2 separate regions of the Homo sapiens genome follow, and region 1 is linked to region 2. The links come from fine-mapping of genetic effects on gene expression. A gene starts in region 2. The other region holds a variant in brackets. All regions are shown on one strand. Distances are from middle to middle. Region 1 holds the start of BGN (biglycan). Region 2 holds the start of HAUS7 (HAUS augmin like complex subunit 7).

The links. PIP is the estimated chance that this variant, and not a neighbour inherited with it, causes the effect. A credible set is the group of variants that fine-mapping cannot tell apart.
Region 1: its variant is the best candidate, but not a certain one, in a credible set for the expression of HAUS7 in cerebral cortex (GTEx, PIP 0.61).

Annotation. Positions count from the first base shown.
Region 1 is chrX:153,491,467-153,496,825 of GRCh38, reverse strand. BGN (biglycan) reads right to left here and starts at 1,846. Exons shown (of 8, transcript NM_001711.6): 1 at 1,713-1,846. It also overlaps a transcript of HAUS7 not described here. RefSeq lists an enhancer at 4,904-5,359. The variant C/T (reference allele first, on the strand shown) is at 2,423.
Region 2 is chrX:153,468,157-153,473,445 of GRCh38, reverse strand. HAUS7 (HAUS augmin like complex subunit 7) reads left to right here and starts at 2,870. Exons shown (of 10, transcript NM_001385482.1): 1 at 2,870-2,996; 2 at 4,185-4,300. The coding sequence starts at 2,889. RefSeq lists enhancers at 2,341-2,635, 3,149-3,248, 3,399-3,578 and a silencer at 2,509-2,818.

The sequences.
Region 1 (5,359 bases), 23 kb before region 2:
AACCCCTCCTCTGGGGACTTGGCGCTGTCACTGGAAGGGACACGCTATAGCTTTGTTTGAGTGACTCTGGAATGTTGCTAAAGACAGGAAACTCATTCTTGCCTTGGAAACACCCCCCTTCCTTTCCCAGACTCCCCATCTATGCGTTGGTAGGGTTAATGCCCACTGCCGTACGGGTCCTTGGGGCTTGAAGGTGGGCCAGGGAGGCCAGGGCTGCCACCCACAGCTGGCCAGCTTGCCATGGGAGCCCTCTCTGCTCCCTGGCTCGCAACCTGCTCCCACCGCCCAGCCCTGGTGGCTTGGAGGCAGCCCTGCATCTTCCTTTCAATATACCCACACGGGCTTGCCCTCAAAGGCTCACCATGCTGGCCCACAGTGGCCATACATGGGCATGCTCCGCACCAAGACATCCATGCTCATACACCAGCTCTCCTGGGGTGCGGCTGGCACCGGCGGCTGGGTGTCACCAGGAGGTGCTCACCCGCACCCCTGGGCGCTGGTCCCCGGGAGCCTTTCTGGCACGGGGGCAGGGGGGCTGAGCATCTCCAGCTTGTCTCAGTTCCAATTAGTTGCTATAGGGCAGAGAGCTGGCAGGCCAGGGAGGGGCGAGGGCCCAGAAACAGGACCCCCTGAGGATGGGACCTGAGCAGTCTGGCAGCCAGGACAGCAGGAGAGAGGCCTGCCCACCAAGACAGACCACTGGAGACTGATGTACCCTGTGCCCTGCAGATCCCTGGGCCCCCTGCTCTGCTCAGCAGGCGCTCAGGCACCCAGCCCCGCCCATGGAGCAGTGAGGGGGCGCTCCCCTCCGTGGGCCTTCCAGGGCACTCTCTCGCTCCCTCTCCTGGGTCCCTTGGCAGGCCCCTCTGGGACCCCAAGCCAGGTCCGCCCTGGGGAGCATGGCACAGTTGCCTGATTTTCTCTCCTTCCCCTCCACACCCATTCTGAGTCCCAGTCCAAGGGGGTCCTGGAAACAGACAGGGCTGAGCCACCCAGGCACCCCCAGTCAGGGCCCTTGCAGCCAGGGCTCCCAGGACCCAGACTTCTCACAGAGGATGTAGAGGCAGAGCATTAACCTGGGGGTGAGCGAGCGAGGAACATCTGGGCAGGGTGCCTGGGGTGTGCCTGGGAAACTAAGTCTTTCAGCCCATGCCAAGGACTGGCCTCAGGCAGTGCAGCGGAGGACTGCTCCTGGGTGCTGAGCTCGGTGGGCGCTGGGCGGTCCTCCCCGATCCGACCCAACCCGGGCCAGGCGCCAAGCCCTGGAGCAAGGAGGCGCCTGGGCAGAGCGAGGCTGAGGGAGTGGAGCATGCGCCTGGGACTTGCAATGATGAAACAGGGCCATTGGCAAAGCTGGGGTACCAGTCACCCAGCCACGCTCTAGGGTGGTAGCCAAGAAGACGGACCCCGAGCGGGAGGCAGAGAGACAAGAGGTGGATGAAGCAGAGCAAGGTCAGAAGGGAGAGGGAGAGGAAGGGGTGAGGGAAAGGTGCCTGGAGGGCGGCGAGACGAGGCAGAAGCCTGACAGGGACCAAGGGGGCCGCAGGGTGGCGATGAAGGGGCGTGGATCAGCAGCCTACAGAGAGCACCGGGGAAATCTGTGGACACCCTCGCGGCACTGGGGACAGCAGGACCAGGGCTTGGGACAGCGGAGGCAGCAGAGCCAGGGGCATCTCTGGGTTGCTGAGGAGGCAGCTTGAAGCCAGCCCTACCTGGAGAGGGGAGGCGCCAGGCGCAGGCTGACTAGTTGGCGGGCTGGGGTGGTGGGCCGTCCGCACGTCTATCTGTCCGGTGTGTCCGGCGGACCGAAAGCAGCTACTCACTCCTGGGCAGTTTGTGGAGAGAGGGAGACAGAGGCGGCGGGCGGGAGGCTAAAGGCTGGGCAGGCGGGCCGACGGGGAGGGGACAGCGGGGAGAGGGCGGGGAGGGAGGAAAGGAGGGAGGGGGCTGGTGGGGCGGAGAGGGCGGGCGAGCAGGAGGGGGCAGGCTTCCCGGCCCCCCTGGCAGCTTCAAAGGGAGCAATTTTCTTGTAGACGGCTGGACTAGCTGAGCCCCCGCCCCCTCGCCCCCACCACCTCCCCCCCCCTCCCCCGCCTGGGGCAGACAGCAAAGGAACGGACACACTCGCACTCACTCAAACAAGGACCCAGAGAGTCAAACTTTCCACTGCCCAGATGGGGACACTGAGGTGCTGGCTGGCATCTCGCCAGGCAGAGGAAAGAGAGATGGAAGAAAGACGAGGGGGAGGCGGCCTTGGGCTGCTAGGCCCATGAGTGGCCCCTGGAATTTGGTCCTGAGCCTGCCAGGAACCTGCTTGGGCCTAAGCAAGGAGGTGGTTTCTCCAGGATCAGAGAGGTAGCTGTTGTGGATTTCTGGAAGGACTTCATGTAGGCTCCTGGCGCCCTGTGCCCTCCCTTCCACT[C/T]CAGACTTTCTTCCCTTAAAAAGAGGGCCCGATCCGGCTGGTGGTGGCAGGACGGGGCAGGGGGCTCCCCAGCTTGCCTGCCCTGAACTGATTCAGAGACGAAGGATCCAGCGAGTCAGTCTTCTTGCTCAATCCCTGCAGGTCCCCTCGGACATGAGAACCACTCTGTGGGTGGCCACTTCCTCTGGGCTCAGCCCTGTGCTGGTCACTTACGGGGGCTAACCGGGTTACCCCACCAAGACTCAGCCGCTTCCTGAGGGCCCAAATGAGTCCAGTTCCTCCAGTGGCTAGAGCCCAGGTCCTTAGTACGACACTGCCCCCCTGTCCCGTAGTGTCCCCTTCTTCCCTCAGCAAGAGCAGCTCCTGAGACACAGGGGTAAGAGTTTAGATGGAGTGAGAAACAGATCTGCAATAGAACTGGGGGCCAAGAGTGCGGAAGACCAAAAGAGAAAATTGCATATTGAGAGAAAAAGCTCGAAGGGGCAGAGAGGGAGAGAGGGGTGGCTAGAGAGAGGCGGCATCCAATGGAGAGAGGACAACGTCGAGGGCTGAGGGTCTTCAACCCCTGGCAGTGCCATCACTCAACCGGGGGGTGGGGTCTGGGAGGTCCCAGGCCAGGGAGGATGCTCCCAGGGGAGCTCTACCTGGGGGCATGGCAGGGCACAGACCCCCTTCCTGTTCACCAGCGGCAGCCCAGGGCCTGGCTAGGACCTGGGACGCATGGCACCTTGACCAAACTGTGGTACCTGCCTGCAAGAAGCTTCTAGACTGGGCCAGGGAGAAGAGAGACGTGGGAAACCAGGGGCCAGGCTGGTAACCCTGGTTCTCTCTTGATTTCATGGTTGGAATGAGGAGATTGGAGACCACATATGCCCTTTCCAGACAAAGGAGATGGCTTGTCTTTCGGCAGGTTTGTGTGTTTTACCTTTTGCCCAGCCTCAGCGTCCGACTCTTGGCAGCCTGGTCTCATCTCTGTCCCACCCTCTTTCCCTCCCCCACTGCCAACTCATTCGTGGAGAAATATGTCGGTAGAGAGCGGGACAGGCAGCGAAGCCTGACTAGCAGTCTGGGTGGAGAGAGAAGCATTTGGAAACATTCCGCTCAGTGACAGCAGCCAGTCGCAAAAGGCCGCAGAGCCTCTGGTTCCATTCATTTGAAATGTCCACACTAGGCTCATCTGTGGGGACAGAAAGCGGATTTGTGGGCAGTGGGTGCTAGAGGGGTGGTACCTAAAGGTATGGGTTTTCTTTTTGAGGTGATGAAAATGTTCTACAATCGACTGAGTGATGGTTGCACAGTTCTGTGAATAGACCATATAAAAGCCCTTGCCTTGTACGTGCTCAATGCGCAAATCGTGTGGTAAGCACAGCCACTCTCAGTAAAGCCGTTTCAGAAAAAAGGAGAAACCCACTCAAGGCATGCCTGCTGCCCGAGGTGCTGGTACCCAGTACCTTCCTGCACTGCTTGGGGACTGAGAACCCAGGAGCTGTCACTCAGGGCCTCAGCCTCCAGGAGTCCCAGTGGGGGTGAAACAGCTCTGAATACCGTGGGGGCGCAGGGCCATGCACAGTGCCAGAGGCTCGGGAGGGCTACCTGGAGGAGGTGACCTGGAGCAGACCAGTAGGGAAGAGGGAAGTTGCCGGTGGAAGGAAGAGCACACGTGCGGGGGGGTGTGGGGAGACACAGGGGAGCCAGGCGGCGCTGCAGTCCGGCCCTGCACCGACCTCACCCTCAGGTCTCAGCCAGGCATGTTCCTGGATGGGGGCTTGGAAGTGGCGATGAGGCGACACCCTGCTTGGGGGAGACACATTATGCATGCACCTTGCAGCTCTTACCTGAAGTTGGGGGCTGCTTCTGGGGGCAATACTCATATAAATACGGTCCTTGTACCTGGAAGGTTTTTGTATCTGTGGTTTGCAGTCTGCAATAAGCCATAACTGCACGCCCGGCCCGGGGCCCACCGAGTCACTCGGCCTGGCTAGGGCCCACTGAGTCACTCGGCCTGGCCCTCTAATTTGGGGGCCACTCCCAGACCAGACAGGCAGTACCTCAGTCCTAGGGCCTCCCCCTTCTGCTCCCCCTCCCACTCCCCCCTCCTCAGGCCTGGGCTCTCTCTGCAGCGCAGAAGGTACTTTGATCCCAGCTGAAGTGCTCTAGGAACAGTGCTTCCTTGCTAGCGAGCAGAGCTGGCGGGCGGGCAGCCTTCTGCCCTTCTGGCCTCTCAGGGCTGGGAGGAGGCAGGGGGAAGCAGGGGGAAGGCAGGCACGGGGGGCGCAAGGCAGGAAGGAAGAGCAGGCATTTCCTGAGGCCCTCAGGGATCCTGGGGAGGAGGCGGACACACAGCTGTCTTAGCTCCCCAGGAACCCGCGGCAGACAGGGAGCAGGAGGTGGGGGAAGCAGAACCCGGCCCCTTCCAGCACGGCCTGTATGTGACCCTGGGATGCCACTGCACAGGCCCCCTAGGCCCTAGCTGGGATGCTTCCCCCAAAAGGCTGTAGAGGGCCAGAAGGTCCTGCTGGCACCAGCCTTGCCTTGCATCCCAGCCCGGGAGACCCCTTCTCCTGCCGGATGGAGCCGAGAGCTCAGCTCTCTCCACCTGACAAGGAGCCCAACCCCCTCAGCTGCGTGGGGAGGGCAGCCCTGGGCAGCCTGCTCAGGCTTCCCTGCAGGGAAAGCTGTCCTGCCCTGGCAGTTGCCCCTGCACAGGGCCCCAGGCCACACTGTGGTCTCCCTGCTCTGAGCCTAACTCTGGTCTAGGCCTCATCAGGCAGCTGCCACCCCAGCCTGCCTGGGACAGCGCCCAGGACGGCTGCTGGAAGGTAGCAGGTGGGGCGGCAGCCATGGGACGGAAGGATGGGACAAGGACATGTCTGAGGGAGGGAGAGGGCCACGGAAGAAGGGGGCTGGGAGGAGGGGAGGCAGGGCGCAGGGATCTAA
Region 2 (5,289 bases):
TCAGGGCCGGGAGTCGAAGTGGCCCCGTGGAGCAAGGCCTTCTAGGGCTTTAGCTCTGACAGCATTCTAGGGCCTAGGCGCCCCCAGGTGGGGTGGCTCCCCCTCAGGTCTAACTCCAGCCCCTGCCAGAAGCAGACCCGCCTCTGCAGAGAGGAAAGCCCTTGGACTTCAGCTTCCTTTGATTCGCGGTGTCTTTGGGGGATTGGGGGGTCCCTGGTTGATTCCCGCTGCACCGTGGGGTCTGCCCTTAAGGTCATATGAAGAGCAGGGCCCGGATGCTCTGAGGACTTTTTCAATACCCTCCACAGGTCAGGGAGGCTGCCCACTTGGTGAGCTCAACTGTTTGGCCATATATCTCTGGGCCCACCACACAAACTGAGAGGTCTCGAATGCCACCAGCACCCGCCAGCCCATCTCTGGCACAGCGGGGCCAGTGCCGTGAACCAGTCTCATTTTCCAACGTGTTTTCCAAGCACTGACACGGCTGAGGCCCTGCTGGGACGCATGGCCAACTTTCCTCCATGACCAGGACCCCCCAGCTTCCCCGCCACATCCACAGCTTCCCCCCAACATCCCTCCTCCAGGTCAATGGGTCCTTCAGCCACATTTTTGGCTCCTGACCCACCCAGGCCTCCCTCAGAGAACCTGGGGTCTCTGGGTTGGAATGTCCCTTAGAGATGTGCCCCCTCCCTCCCCCATGGTAGGACTCAACCCTCCACATCCCCGCCCACCCACCTCCCTGGGCTTGTAGACCTTCTAGGACCGGGAGCTCCCTTCCTCTCCTGGCAGCCAGCTGGTGTTCAGACAGTGATTTCTGGGAGGAGTGCTTTCTTGGACTGAGCTTGAGTCCACATTTCCAGAAGCTTCTACCTCTGGGCCCCTTCTTTCCCCCTTCCTGAGAGGCCCAGCAGCCTCTCTGTTCCCTCCCCAGCCTCCAGCTTTTCCGGAGGAAGATGCCTGGGAGGTGCTATGATTCTGGGGGCGGGTGGTGGGTGGCAGGTGGTGGGTGGTGGGTGGTGGGTGGTGGGGTGGCGTGGGCAGGGAAGCTGCAGCCTGCTGCTGGGTCTTCAGCGACCATCTCCAGGGGCTGAGGGCTGGCCAACAGGTTCTCCATGAGGGGGATGGCCTCCATAACCTCTCAAGATGATCTTCGCCTCTCAAGGCCCTGCCAGTTCCTCAGGGTCCCATAGACTGAACTGCTGAGGTTGGGGAGGCCTGTTGAGCACACTGGCTCCGTGGAGCTGGGTGGAGGAGGGAGATTTTCTTCCAGAGTACACAGGAGCTGGTTTCTTCCCGGTCCTCAGGAGCAGAGAATATGGGGAGGGTTGGGGGAGGCTGCCACACTGCCGTGGTTTCTTCCGCCAAATTCCCCAGTCCTAGGAAAGATCCACAGAAAAACCCACAAGAATTTGAATGTCTGAGCTGGGGCTGTGATTGAGATGAAATTTTCTAAAAAGAAAGAAAGAAAAACAAAAACAAAAAAGAGGGAAAAAAACGCTTAAAAAAAAATCCCAAAGCCTTTGACAGCCCTCAGCTACCAGAAGGGCCTGAGGCAGCAGCCACGTGGAAGGGTAGAGAGCAACCTTGAGGCACTTCGCTGGGCCTGTGTCGGGGCCTCCCAGGCTGAGGTCCCTTCCTGTGACCCCCGGACTCCTGCCCGCTCCCTCCTCCCAGGACGGAGTGAAGTCCCCTCCTGTCACTTGGATGACTGCAGTTGCCTCCCAGCAGGTCCCTGGGTCTCCCTGACTATAGACTTGCCCCCTGATCCCACCCTCCAGGAGATGGCAGGGTAGGGCACAGAGGAGGGCACAGTGGCAGCTGCCTGCTGCTGTCTCCTGGCTACTGGGCACAAGCCACCCTCCAACTCCTTCCTGCCTTGCCCAATCAGCAGGTCCCTGGGTAAGGGGCATTCAGTGAACTGGGGGCTTTGCAGGTCTGGGGGAGGAGCGACTGACATATTTCATTGCAGACGCATTGAGTTTGAGGGTCCTGAGGGATGTAGAAAAATTTGTTAAGTAGACAGGATAGGAAGGAGCCACAGGTAGCCCCAGGAGCCGTGAGGGGAGCAGGGCCCAGCATGTATTACAATAGTGAGCATTTACGTGGTTCTTCGCATGCGCCGGGCACTGTTCTAGGGATTCCACAGGAATTATTACCGCCTGCCATCCTCATTAGCAACCCAGTGGGTAAGGTGCTCTCATTAGCTCCATTAGGTGAGGGCAAAGAGGCACAGAGAGGTTAGGTAACTGGTTCAAAGGCACACAGCTGGTGAGTGACAAGAAATTTCCTTCTAACTACAGCGTGAGCATGGTGAAGAGAAGACGGAGCCCCGCGCTGGGAGAGGAACGCTTCAGTCCGAGTTCCATTCTGCACCCAAGGCTCCCCTTGGTCCTCCTGGGAACCAGGGTGCCCCTTAGTGGTGGTGGCCCAGGAGAACCCGACCAAGGCAGGAGCGCCCCCTCCTGGAAGAGCCTCGCTTCAACGCATCATCATTCCCGGCCGGCAGCAGGGGCGACGCCAGCAAGGCCTGCGACTCAGAGCCAGCTTGGCCCGTTCGCCCCGCCCCTTCCCGGTGTCCGCCCCGCCCCTTTCCCGGTGTCCGCCCCGCCTCCTTCCCGGTGTCCGCCCCGCCCCCTTCCCTGTGTCCGCCCCGCCCCCTTCCCTGTGTCCGCCCTGCCCGCTTCACTGTGGTCCTGCCTCTGGGTGGTGCCGGGGCGGGGGGTGGGAGCCCGGGGCCCGCGCAGGCGGAGATGTCGCCCAATGGGAAGGGTCGGTCGGGAAGGGGGTGGGCGCAGGCGGGTGGGCGGGAAGAACGCTGGAGGTTGATTGGCGGTCTTGCCGGCCAGTGAAGCCAGGGCATGGGCGGGGCGCGGCTCGGAGCGCGAAACATGGCGGGGCAGGACGCTGGCTGCGGCCGTGGCGGCGACGACTACTCAGAGGACGAGGGCGACAGCAGCGTGTCCAGGGCGGCTGTGGAGGTGTTCGGGAAGCTGAAGGTGCTGTTGGCCCAGAAAGCCACTCCAGGGCGGGGGACCGGGGAGGGCCCCGCCCGAGGCCCGGGAGGGCTTGCTGCGGAAGTCCGCGGCGCCACGCGGCCACCGTCGCCGGTTCCGGCTGCGCCCTGTTCCCTTGCAGCAGGGGGTGCTTGTGGATCATTCATCTTTGCCCTTTGGTGTGCCCCAGGCCTTCGTTCTTGCTGTCTCCACGGCCCGTGCCTGGTAGTTGGGGCCAGCACCGCCTGTGGAACTGCAGTACCCGCGCTGGGCGCTCGGAGCAAGTGCAGACACAGAGGACCCAGGCCTGGCCTTAGGGATCTTGCGGGGTCTGGGGGGACAGATGGGCAGAGCCTCGTGCCACTCTGTCAAGTCAGCGAGACTAGGGCTTGGTGTCAGTTGGTGTCAGATGCCAGGGGTGATAGCCTCCAGAAGCCCTCTACAGCCCCACAGGACAGAGCCCTCACTGCAGCAGTGAGGAAAGCTGGCCCACGAGGTTAGGGAGCTGTCCCAGGTCCCCTCGGCCCGCTCGCTCCTCCCCCCAGACACTCCCCCATCCTGTCCGCGACTGGCTCAGTGGTCCCTCTCCCTTTCCCTCTCCCCTTTCCCTCAGTCCCGAAACCTAGGACTCTCTCTTAAGTCTTAGTCTCAGGCGTTGCTCCTAGGTCCTGCTGCCACAAGAGCCCAGAGTGGGAGTACTTGAAAGAGGTGGGGTCTGCATGCCGCGGGAGATGTGGGGTTAAGAATGGGGGGACTTGAACTCTTGGCAAGATGGCAGGACGCGGGTAAAGGAAAGGGTCCTGGGAGCTTGCAGATGTACACTGAGGACTGGGCGCGGCGGCCCACGCCTGTAATCCCACCACTTTGGGAGGCTGAGGTGGGCAGATACCTGAGGTCAGGAGTTTGACACCAGCCTGGCCAACATGGTGAAACTCCGTCTCTATTAAAAATACAAAAATTGTCCGGGCGTGGTGGCGCATGCCTGTAATCCCCCAGCTACCCTGGGAGCTGAGGCAGGAGAATTGCTGGAACCCAGGAGGTGGAGGCTGCAGTGAGCCGAGATCATGCCACTGCACTCCATCCAGGCTGGGCGACAGAGTGAGACTCCGTCTCAAAAATAAATAAATAAATAAAATGAAATGATGTACACTGGGACTTTCAGTGAATGTTGCTTTCCTTTTCCTTGCTTAGGACCTAAACTGCCCCTTCCTCGAGGGTCTGTATATCACAGAGCCAAAGACAATTCAGGAACTGCTGTGCAGCCCCTCAGAGTACCGCTTGGAGATCCTAGAGTGGATGTGTACCCGGTAATGCATCAGTTTCTTCCTCTTCCCACCTGGGGTGTGCATGGGCGCCAGCCAGCCCCACCTGGGGAAGATGGGGTTTGTGGTTACTGTGAGTAGCTGTCTTCCCAGAGGGCTCCACCCCCTAGCCTGGACCCTCGTGAGAACAGCTGTGTAGGTAAGGAGTACTGGTGACAGGCATGATCAAACTTGGGGCAAAGTGGCCCCTGGCGGTGCTGGGCTAGTCCAGCCACCCCTTTGCTGCAGTGCTGAACTTGCCCTCAGCGTTTGCCTTGCCTTATGAGTTTGGAGGTTCAGGACTGGCAGGCACCTGAGAAATGCTCCATTCCAGTCCTTTCCTTCTCAGACCCGGAAGCCAAGGGTCAGGCTGGAGGCATGAACAGTCTCTGGTCTCCCAGTGGAGGAGTGACAGGCAGGGCCAGGGCGTGGGCTCCTGGCTGGGTCTCAGCTGGCCAAGTGGTCCTCATGCAGTGTCACCTCTTGTCAGCTTCTGTGCCGTGACCCGTTTCCCAGTCCTCTGGTGCCTTTGGGCCAGGGTGTAGCATGGTGTGTGCCTGGCACCCTATGAAGCCCATGGTGACAGGGTGACTTCCTGAGTGATGGTGGAGGAAATGATCCAGAGTGTCCCATTCCCAGGGCAGACATCCTTCCCCTGGTGACGTAGTCCCTGAGCTGAGGGTCTGTCTCACTGCCTCACAGCTGTGAGTGGAGAAGGCTTTCCCCGCCTCCCACAGAGCACAGGCTCCTGTGGGATTGGGTGTGTGCCCAGGCCATGCTCAGGAACAGCTGTAGTCTGTTGGTACAGGAGCCTCTCGTGAGTCCAGGCCCGGGCCTCCCCCTCCTCAGCCTGCGGCCTGCCTACCCTTGCTGCTTGAGGAAGGGGCCTGGGCGGGAGCCTGGCAGTAGAGCAGTGGGGAGCCAACCTGCATCCAGCCGGTCTGGCCCGCCAGGACCAGAGACATCAGCAGGACGCCCAGCTGGATACAGGCCCC